3 linked regions of the Homo sapiens genome follow. The protein of the gene in region 3 purifies or fractionates together with the protein of the main gene of each other region. This does not show direct contact. Each region holds a gene or a part of one and is shown on either strand. Other genes may lie near its edges. The genes, in order: BCAM, TFRC and TSPAN14.

What was found.
Region 1: the proteins of TSPAN14 (region 3) and BCAM purify together in Homo sapiens (co-immunoprecipitation; one large-scale study listed by IntAct). This does not show direct contact.
Region 2: the proteins of TSPAN14 (region 3) and TFRC purify together in Homo sapiens (co-immunoprecipitation; one large-scale study listed by IntAct). This does not show direct contact.

What each region holds. Positions count from the first base shown.
Region 1 is NC_000019.10:44,815,544-44,819,191, reverse strand, and holds part of BCAM (basal cell adhesion molecule isoform 1 precursor), read right to left. Parts: intron 671-3,648; coding exon 555-670; intron 452-554; coding exon 310-451; intron 137-309; coding exon 1-136. UniProt on the Homo sapiens protein: Transmembrane glycoprotein that functions as both a receptor and an adhesion molecule playing a crucial role in cell adhesion, motility, migration and invasion.
Region 2 is NC_000003.12:196,050,987-196,054,634, forward strand, and holds part of TFRC (transferrin receptor protein 1), read right to left. Parts: intron 2,573-3,648; coding exon 2,432-2,572; intron 1,199-2,431; coding exon 956-1,198; 3' UTR 1-955. UniProt on the Homo sapiens protein: Cellular uptake of iron occurs via receptor-mediated endocytosis of ligand-occupied transferrin receptor into specialized endosomes. Endosomal acidification leads to iron release.
Region 3 is NC_000010.11:80,509,769-80,513,416, reverse strand, and holds part of TSPAN14 (tetraspanin-14), read right to left. Parts: intron 1,274-3,648; coding exon 1,148-1,273; intron 1-1,147. UniProt on the Homo sapiens protein: Part of TspanC8 subgroup, composed of 6 members that interact with the transmembrane metalloprotease ADAM10.

The sequences.
Region 1 (3,648 bases), on a different chromosome or scaffold from region 3:
CTGCCCCCCAATTGGCTCCAGCTGAGTTTGGGGTCTGGATGGCCGCGGGCAGAGCAGATGAGTGTGACTTCGTCTCCTTCCCTCCAGCTGCCATCTGCCTTGGGCTCTATTTCCGCTGTCTTTAGCTCTGGCGAGCCTGTGGGTGGTGGGGATGGGAAGAAAGTGAAGGGAGAGGAGAGAGAGAGAGAAGAGAGGCATCGAGCAGAAGATGGAGTCCCCAGCCAGGGACTCAGGAACTCGTCCTGTTTGTCCAGGTCCCACACCCCACACTGTCCCCATCCAAGCCCACCCCCTCCCTGCCCCCTGAACCTTGGACCAGCAGCGTGAAGTTCTGGGTGCGGCTGAGGACCGGGACTGTGGGCAGGGAGGCCTCACATACGTAGGTGCCATTGGAATCGAAGGTGATAGAACTGAGCGACAGCATGGGGCCATCGCCCAGGGGAGTGGAGTCCTGGGAAGGGCAGAGGAGGAGGAGGACGCTGTGAGAGGGCGAGGAGTGAGGGGAGAGAGGAGGGTGCGAGTGCAGGGCCCGAGGGGGCTCCTCTCCCTCTCACCTTGGTCCAGCGTAGGGCAGGGGTGGGCAGGCCGTGCACGGAGCAGTTCACGACTGCACTGCTGTTTAGAGGTAAGGAAAGCACCTTCCCCTCGCTGAGCTCCAGGGGGTCCAGATCTGCAGTGGGGGACAGTCTGTCACTCGTCCCAGACCGCCACCCACTCAATTAGGGGCTCTCCAGGGGCGGTCGGGGGTGCAAACATGAATGGACAGTTGGAAGCAGAGAACAGCAAGTAATCCTCCTGGTTTACCCCATCTCCATGAAATCTCCATTCTCCCATCCAGGCTCTCCAACCAAAAATCTAGCAGTCTAACCCCAACATTGACATGCCCAAGTCAATTACTTTTCTTCAGAGCTGACATCTGAGCCCAAGGTTAATGAATAACCTTAGGTGTGGAAGGTGTCCCTTCTGTGACTTTAGCACACAAACCTTTTGCTCAAACCCCAACCTGTGGGGTAACCTCCCTGTTACCCCCAAACATCTTTTCTGCAAAGTTTTGTTTTTGAATAGAGACAAGGTGTTGCTATGTTGGCCAGGCTGGGTCTCAAACTCCTGGCCTCAAGTGATCCTCCTGTCTTGACCTCCCAAAAGTGCTAGGATCACAGGCGTGAGCCCCTGCTCCTGGCCTCAGCAAGTCTTTATCTGGTCTGCTCCCAGGACAAATCCTCTGGCTTCCTGCCACCTCTGGCCCCAGGTTTGACTGTCCCAACCACCTCTTCACTAGCCTGCTCCTCCCTCTTGTCCATCCTCCACTGAGCAGCTAGAGGGACCTCTTTAAAACATCCACTGGTCAGGCCGGGCACGGTGGCTCATGCCTATAACCCCAGCACTTTGGGAGGCCGAGGCGGGTGCATCACCTGATGTCAGGAGTTCGAGACCACCCTGGTCACATGGTGAAACCCCATCTCTACTAAAAATCCAAAAGCTAGCTGGGCATAGTGGTGCATGCCTATAGTCCCAGCTACTTGGGAGGCTGAGGCAGGAGAATCGCTTGAACCTGGGAGGTGGAGGTTGCAGTGAGCCGAGATTGTGCCACTGCGCTCCAGCCTGGGTGACAGAGTGAGACTCTGACTCAAAAAAAAAAAAACAAAAAAAACCAACCACCCACTGGTCATCCCTCCCCTCTGCATAAAACCCTGCAGTGGCTCCCCAGTACCCTTGGCATCGAGGCCAAACTTCTTGAGGGTGCCTAAAAGATGCTGCCTGGTCTGGCCCTCACCCACCTCTTGAACCATCTCCCACTCTTCCCCATTCCTCCTGTGCTCCCAGCTACCCCGTTCTCTTGCTGTTTTTCTTGAGTAGACCAAGTTGGGGCCTGCCTCAGGGCCTTTGCACTTGCTCACTCTACTTGCAGTGCTCTTTTTGTAGCTCTCTGCATTTCTTCTTCTTATTATTTTTTTTTGAGAGAGTTTGGCTCTGTCGCCCAGGCTAGAGTGCAGTGGCGGGATCTCAGCTCACTGCAAGCTCTGCCTCCTGGGTTCATGCCATTCTCCTGCCTCAGCCTCCCGAGTACCTGGGACTACAGGCACCTGCCACCACGCCCAGCTAATTTTTTGTATTTTTAGTAGAGACGGGATTTCACCGTGTTAGCCAGGATGGTCTCAAACTCCTGACCTCATGATCTGCCCGCCTCTGCCTCCCAAAAGTGCTGGGATTACAGGTGTGAGCCACCGTGCCCGGCCAATTTCTTTTTTCTTTGAGACAGACTCTTGCTCTGTCACCCAGGCTGGAGTTCAGTGGCACGATCTCAGCTCACTGCAACCTCCGCCTCCCAGGATCAAGCGATTCTCCTGCCTCAGTCTCCTGGGTAGCTGGGATTACAGGCACCAGCCATCATGCCTGGCTAATTTTTATATTTTTAGTAGAGATGGGGTTTCACCATGTTGGCCAGGCTGGTCTCGAACTCCTGACCTCAGGTGATCCACCTGCCTCGGCCTCCCAAAGTGCTGGGATTACAGGTGTGAGCCACTGTGCCTGGCTGCTGTCTGCTTTTCTGAGTCTCACTTAAATGTCTCTTCTCAGAGGCTTCCCTGACCTCCCCTATTGTGGACACCCAGATCTTTCCTACAGCACGGAAGGACTTATTCCACCAGCTGCTAAGAAGGATGACAGCTGTCAGCCTGCAGCTGTCACCCCTCTCTGGGAGCTGCCTCAGCTGCTGAGAGCCCCTTGCCTAAGGCCAGCACACCTCTGAGGACTGGTTGATGTAGAGGTTATTAAGGCCCAGCCCCCTCACCCCAACTGGGGACAACTGTGAAGGGCCATCCTGGATTCCAAGTACCCCGTGGGGCTGACTGAGGCCCTCTTTCTTTCTTTTATTTGTTTCTGAGATGGAGTCTCACTCTGTTGCCCAGGCTGGAGTGCAATGGCACGATCTCAGTTCACTGCAATCTCCGCTTCCTGGGTTCAAGCGATTCTCCTGCCTCAGGCTCCTGAGTGGCTGGGATTACAGGTGCATGCCACCACACCCGGCTAACTTTTAGTACAGAGGGGGTTTCACTATGTTGGCCAGGCTGGTCTCTAACTCCTGACCTCAGGTGATCCACCCACCTCGGCCTCCCAAAGTGTTGGGATTACAGGCATGAGCCACGGGGCCCGGCCTACTTTTTTATTTTTATTTTTCCTGAGACGGGGTCTTTCTCTGTCGCTCAGGCTGGAGTGCAGTGGCACAATCTTGGCTCACTGCAGTTTCAACCTTCCAGACTCAAGGGATCCTCCCACCTGGGCCTCCGAGTAGCTGGGACTACAGGTGTGTGCCACTATGCCTGGCTAATTTTTAATTTGTGTGTGTGTGTGTGCAAATGGGGTCTCCCTCTGTTGCCCAGGCTGGCCTCAAACTCCTAGGCTCATACAATCCTCCTGCCTCAGCCTCTCAAAGTGCTGGGATTATAGGCATGAACCACTGCACCCAGCCTGAGACCTTCCTTAGACTTCAGTCCAACTTCTCACCTTGCCAAATCTTGCTTCCTTTACCTCCCTAGACCCAAGAGGTGCGGAACCCAGGGTACTTCCCATAAACTTCTTGCCTGAAAACATCCAAGTCAGAATCTGCTTCTCAGGAAAGCAGACTGCAACACCTGCCACCTAAAATAA
Region 2 (3,648 bases), on a different chromosome or scaffold from region 3:
AAGGCACTGCTTCCGATAATTATATTCTATTAAAAAAACACCATTTATAGTGAACTCTGTCACTGATAAATAAACAATAAATATCTCAGTGCCAAAAGGACAGAAAGCTCTCCCCTAAGATTAACACTTTGGCCAAAATTTGGCAGCATATTATTCTTTAAAGTCTGACAAACTGAGTCTGCAACTAAACACCTGAAACTGGTTCTCTTTCAATGTGCTTTGGAAGAAACAAAAATAACAAAGAACTAAATGGAGGCTTATGGGGGAAGGGACAGAGGAAAAGAAAATATACTAAGTCTTTGGCTTCTGGTCCCCTCTTTTCATAAATGACACTGAGGTTAACATATTAAGGCCTTATTCCTGCAATCAACAGTTGAACCTCATTTTATCCAGCAGAAGGACCTCCATTTCAGACCTCATTGGCAAGAAAACAAGCCCATCTCTTCTGAAAGTTAACTGTTTCTTTCAGGAATGAGGAAACCAGCTACATTCCTTATGGAAAGGCTTAGATCTCATTTGGAGAAGGTCTTTCAACCTGGTATCTCCTATTTAGCATCAAATGAAGTTGGAGGATCACTCAAAGTAAGCGACCACTTACAACCTTCAGCAGAGACCAGCCCTTAGGATTCAGAGAGATCATTCACATAACTGGTTTCTGACATTTTCATTAACAACAACAGGAAAGAGGCAGTTCCCATTACAAAGCACTTAAAATTCTAGAGATAGGGGAATATTCCATCATGGACATTTTTTAAGTGGTTATTCACTTTAACTTGAAGTACAGGTTATCTACCCTGTATTAAAAGCTGCTGCCTAAAGACATCTAGTAGTACCAAGATGATGGGATGGAATTTTAACATCAGGTTTTGTAGCCCTACTGAAAATTTAGCACGATCAGCACAAGTCTAGAAACCAGACTACCCTGCTGTTCTCATGGAAGCTATGGGTATCACATTTAAAACTCATTGTCAATGTCCCAAACGTCACCAGAGAGGGCATTTGCAGCTCCCTGAATAGTCCAAGTAGCTAGAGCCAACTGGTTTCTGAACAGCGTTTCATTAAAAGCACCGTTATTTTGTTTACGCAGTTTCAAGTTCTCCAGTAAAGCTGGCAGCGTGTGAGAGCCGGAGCCCCAGAAGACATGTCGGAAAGGAGACTCTTTTGGAGATACGTAGGGAGAGAGGAAGTGATACTCCACCTACGAAAACAACACACAAGGCAATTTACACAGCCCTGTGACTTTTGTAGTAAAACAACAGTTCACTTCAAATGTAAAATGTCCCAAATTTAAGAATGCCGATCAGACTTTTTTTTTTTTTTTTTTTTTTTGACACAGAGTTTCGCTCTTGTTGCCCAGACTGGAGTGCAACAGCGCTATCTCGGCTCACTGGTACCCTCCACCTCCCGAGTTCAAGCAATTCATGCTGGGATTACAGGTGTGAGCCACCGTGCCCGGCTTTTTGTTGTTGTTGAGACAGAGTTTCGCTCTTGTTGCCCAGGCTGGAGTACAATGGCGCGATCTCAGCTCACTGCAACCTCCACCTCCCGGGTTCAAGTAATTCTCCTGCCTCAGCCTCCTGAGCAGCTGGAATTACAGGCATGCACCACCACGCCCAGCTAATTTTTGTATTTTTAGTAGAGATGGGGTTTCTCCATGTTGGTCAGGCTGGTCTTGAACTCCTGACCTCAGGTGATCCGCTTGCCTCGGCCTCCCAAAGTACTGGAATTACAGGCATGAGCCACTGTACCCAGCCAGCTGATCAGACTTTCTATAGCAGAGTAAGGAAAAAAGAATGCTGAGAACCAGGCTAATGCTAATCTTCTAAGGTTAAAATTCTAAAGGAGGCTAGGCACAGCGGCTCACGCTTGTAATACCAGCACTTTGGGAGGCCAAGGCAGGTGGATCACTTGAGGTTGGGAGTTCGAGACCGGCCTGGCTAACATGGTGAAACTCCGTTTCTACTAAAAATACAAAAAATGAGCCGGGCGTGGTGTTGGGCACCTGTAATCACAGCAACTCGGGAGGCTAAGGCAGGAGAATCACTTGAACCTGGGAGGTGGAGGGTGCAGTGAGCCGAGACCGTGCCATTGCACTCCAGCTTGGGCAACAACAGTGAAACTCTGTCTCAAAAAAAAAAAAAATTTTTTTAAAGGAAACTGATTCATTTTACAAAGGAAAACTTTAAATGTGTTCAGATTCTTTTCCCCATTGGAGCATACATGGAAGTTTTACAGCAAGTCTCTTCCAAAAAGACTAGGTTTGACTAAGTTCTGAATTAGACAGCAGAAACAGAAAATGACAGCTAAACCATTAATGCTCCCTTCTTAAAGGAATTCTAGACTCCTAGAGTTTGTCCACTTTGCAGAAGTGTAAGATTTATCGGTTATTTTACACATACTTTAGTTCCTCCTTTCCCAAAAGTTCACTTACTCTCATGACACGATCATTGAGTTTCTTCATGACAAATCTGTCTGTTTTCTCAGCATTCCCGAAATCTGTTGTTAGTCTGGAAGTAGCACGGAAGAAGTCTCCACGAGCAGAATACAGCCACTGTAAACTCAGGCCCATTTCCTGAAACAGACATTATTCGCTATGAGAAGTTTTATTTCTAAGGACATTCTTTTGTATGCCTTTCTAATTTAACGTGCGTTAAGTAAGATTCTGATAAAAGGAACTCGCAGATAAGCTCAAGACTCCGAAAGCACCTTGCACAGGGGTTCCAAGCTCTATGGACTGTGATATACACTCATATTTGAGCCCAGCATGTAAGAAAACCATTCTCATTAAGAAATTGAACATAATTATATAATCCTATGTACTATATTGTTTCCAGTTCAATTCTCCTTTTGGGGGAAAATGTCCCTATAGGGGAAAACATTTTGGTTCAAGGTACTTCAGGATTTAGTTATTTCCACCTGGTAAGTTCCATTTTCAACAGTTACAATTAGTTTCAAGAAAGACATAAGATGCCGGGCGTGGTGGCTCATGCCTGTGATCCCAGCACTTTGGGAGGCCGAGGTGGGTGGATCACCTGAGGTCAGGAGTTCAAGACCAGCCTGGCCAACATGGTAAAACCCCGGCTCTACTAAAAATACAAAAAATTAGCCGGGCGTGGTGGCCGGCACCTGTAGTCCCAGCTACTCGGGAGGCTTAGGCAGGAGAATGGCGTGAACCCGGGAGGCGCATCTTACAGTGAGCCGAGATCTCGCCACTGCACTTCAGCCTGGCCAACATGGTAAAACCCCGGCTTCTACTAAAAACACAAAAACTATCTGGGCATGGTGGCACACGCCTGTAATCCCAGCTACCTGGGGAGCCGAGGCAGGAGAATCGCTTAAAGCCGGGAGGTGGAGGTTGCAGTGAGCCGAGATCATGTCATTGCATTCCAGCCTGGGGGACAAGAGCGAGACTTCATCTCTCAAAAAAAATAAAATAAAAATAAAAATAAAAAAGATATAAAAAGATTCGGTTGTCAGTGATTTACTTCAATTAAGAGATCTGTTAAAAATCAACTCCTAGTACCATAAAACAATCTGGAAGCTACTTTAATATTAGTTTTATTAATTTATTTAGAGATGGGATTTTGCTATGTTGCCTGGGCTGGACTCCAGCAATCCTCCTGCCTCAGCAGAAGTAGCTGGGGCTAC
Region 3 (3,648 bases):
TGCCCATATAATAGTGGTGATGCTCTGCCTTCTCAAAGCCTGTAACCCAGGACCAGGCTTTGCATAACTGCACCGAGAGCTGGCAACTGGCCCAGTTCTACTCAGGCTCAGTTCAGGCAAAATTCAGAGCTCCTTCACAGTTCACCCCAAGAACCCAGCTTCTGGAACCCAAGGACGTTGGCCTTGGATTGGGAATGCCAATAGGTAAAGAAAGGACAGGACAGGCACAGCGGCCCACACCTGTAATCCCAGCACTTTGGGAGGCTAAGATGGGCAGATCGCTTTGAGCCCAGGAGTTTAAGACCAGCCGGGGCAACATGGTGAAACCCCATCTCTACAAAAAATACAAAAATTAGCCAGGTGTGGTGCTCAAGCCTGTGGTCCCAGCTACTTGGGAGGTTGAGGCTGGAGAATTGCTTGAGCCCGGGGAAGCAATGGTTGTACAGTGAGCTGAGATCGCACCACTGCACTCCAGCCTGAGTGACAGAGTGAGACACTGTCTCTAAAATAAAACCAAACAACAACAACAACAACAACAACAACAAACAGAAAATAATTAGCCGGGTGTGGTGGCGTGCACCTGTAATCCCAGCTACTCAGGAGGCTGAGGCAGGAGAATCGCTTGAACCCAGGAGACAGAGGTTCCAGTGAGCCAAGATCATGCCACTACACTCCAGCCTGGGCGACACAGCAAGACCCTGTCTCAAAAATAAAAGAAAGAGAAAAAGAAAGAAAATAATTCTCCACTACTGTTCCCCAGTTAATGATGTGTACCCACAGCCCCCGTGCACTGTTGAGTTCTAGGAATCTGCTCCAGAAAAAGGACAGGGAAGAGGGATAAGCGGGCCTTATTTCACTCATAGCTCTTGGCCAGCTGCAAGTGACAGCCCTCCAGGTAGAAATAATACTGTTTTTCTCCTGCCTCACCCAGAACACCAAGGCCAGGGTGGGTCATGCAAGCAGTGTTCCTAGAATGTACACATATCGGATTTCAGAGCTGAGGCAGCCTTGAGGAGGGTGTGGAGAAAGCACACCTGCTCCTCAGACCTCCATGACAGAGAAGTATCCTAGAGCACTGGAGGAGTCAGGAAAGCTTCTGGGCTTCAGGAAGGGCGGGCTCCCTGTGCCCCAGCACAAGCCAACTCACCGCAGGATCTGGCACGCAGCAGGAGAAGGGGACCCCGCACTTCTCTCGGCTGTAGCTGGCACCGCTGCAATTGAAGTAGACGTTGAGGTCCCAGTCTTCAGGGCCATATGCGCCACAGCACTGGTTCTGCAACCACAAAAGCCAGAACTGTTAGGGGCTCCAAGACAGGGCCATGGCTGCCCAGCATAGGGCATCATTCATAGTGATGCCAGGCTAAGTCTGCCGGCATCTACCATGCAGAGAAATCAAGGCCCGCCCCCTACCTCCCATGTGCAGAGATGCTAAGCTGGCAACCCAGGCAGCCCTTTAAGAAGAAAACAGCTAGGCGTAGTAGCTCAGGCCTGTAACCTCAGTGACTCGGGAGGTTGAGGTGGGAAGATGGTTTGAGCCCAGGAGTTGGAAACAAGTCTGGGCAACACAGCAAGACCCCCACCCCCAATCAGAAAGAAAGAAAGGAAAGAGAGAGAGAAAGAGAAAAGGAGAGAAAGAAAAAAGGGGAGAGAGAGAGAGAGAGAGAGAGAGAGAGAGAGAGAGAGAGAGAGAGAGAGAGAGAGAGAGGACCTGCCCTTTTGATGTGTTAAAGAAAATAATAACAAAAAGGAAATGGCAGTGAAGGTATCTCCGGGCCACGGTGCCTCCTCTGTCCAACCCACATGGCTGGCTCAGTGGAGCCCTCTGGCCCCACTGCCAGGCACAACATACCCAGCCCTGGCCCTCCTTAGCAGGGAGCTTGCTCTTCTTCCCAGCCTCCTCAAAGGAGACGCCTCCTTCCAGCCTCCTCAGACAGGAGAGTGGCGTCCTCTCCTTTGTGGCCCCCTCGGCACCTTGGTGTGGTCCTCTACTTGCCACAAGAGAACACTTCCTAGTGTGCAGTGTTCTTCCTCCCTGAGAAACTTGCAAGTGAATTCCCCTTTTCACCCCTTTACAAAAAACAGCTGCTAAGTGTCTGCTCCTGAGGAAAAGAGGTCCGATGAAGGTGAAAGGTAACACAATCAAAGCTCTGCCCCACACCTGGGGCCTCTGCCCTCCCCTTCCTCGCATCTGGTGTGGCTACAAAGAAAATCCTTATTTGACTAAAAAGTGTGTAAAATCCAAACACTGAAAGCATCATTGTGAAGTTGACAGTGTCTTTTCCCCTAAAAAACTTCTTTGCATTTGCCCTTACAGCTGACATGGTTATGGCAATAATCACAACAAATGACAACAGTGATTTCTGGTTGGTTATTTTGTTTTGCTTACTTCTCAGGTAAAATTGTCTCCCCCACACCTCCACGGTTCCACTTGCTTTAGTGATTACCTGAAATTTCACTCCAAGGAAGCTCTGTAATTTACTGAATCCCTCCCCTGGGAAGTTTTGTTTTGTTTTGTTTTAATTTATTTATTTTATCTTTTTTTTGAGACGGAGTCTTGCTCTGTTGACCAGGCTGGACTGCAGTGGCGTGATCTCGGCTCACTGCCAGTTCCGCCTCCCGGGTTCACACCATTCTCCTGCCTCAGCCTCCCGAGTAGCTGGGACTACAGGTGCCCACCGCCACACCCCACTAATTTTTTGTATTTTTAGTAGAGATGGGGTTTCACCATGTTAGCCAGGATGGTCTCGATCTCCTGACCTTGTGATCCACCCGCCTCAGCCTCCCAAAGTGCTGGGATTACAGGCGTGAGTCACCGCGCCCGGCCAGAAGTTTTATTTTTAAAAGAAAAAGAAGTCAATGCAGAAAACTATGTTTTTAAGGCAATGCAGGGATGAACCGCAACCTAGCATGCTGAGACCAGGCAAGCCAAGGCTACGTGAAAATGAAAAAAGGACGGTGGCACTGAACAGAAAAGAAAGGAGAGGCATCAAAACATGGCGGGGATTTGGTGACTTTCACAGACTAATACACATTAGTAATAACAATACAGGCAGGGTCTTTGGTCCCATAAATGGGTTTTGCTGGATCCCATAATACATGAAATAAAGGTGAACAAGTTTTGGTTAATAATGAGAGTGAATCATAGATTTTTAATGGTTTCTGATTTATTTTCTTCTCAAAACCAAAGTGTTCCACATGAAAAGTTCTTAAGGAAGCTGGGCTTTCTGTCAGCACACAGATCAAACAAGAGCCTTGCATTGCACAGGCTGACATGGCCAAGGAGTGGGTTCCTCCCCAGGGGGCTGTGACAGCTATGGTCCAAGCGTCCAGGTGCAGCCACACATGAGAGAGATAAGAGGGATGGGGACCAGATGGAGTAAAGGCCATAGCCTGGAACTGCTTAGACAAACCCCTGGGCACATATTCCAGGGAGGTCACATTCCACTAGATCTGACAAAGCTTCCTCCAGGCAGCCCTGGCTTCTTAAACAGGAAGGGGAAAAGGTCCCAGGGAGGAAGGGGAAAAGGTCCCGGGGAGGAAGGGGATAGGAATAGCGTCAGATGGTGAGTCATGAGCCGGGGGGAAGAAGCTGTGCCTTACGGTATGCAGCGCCTAAGGAGGATTGCAGCTGGTATGGCTATTGGGCAG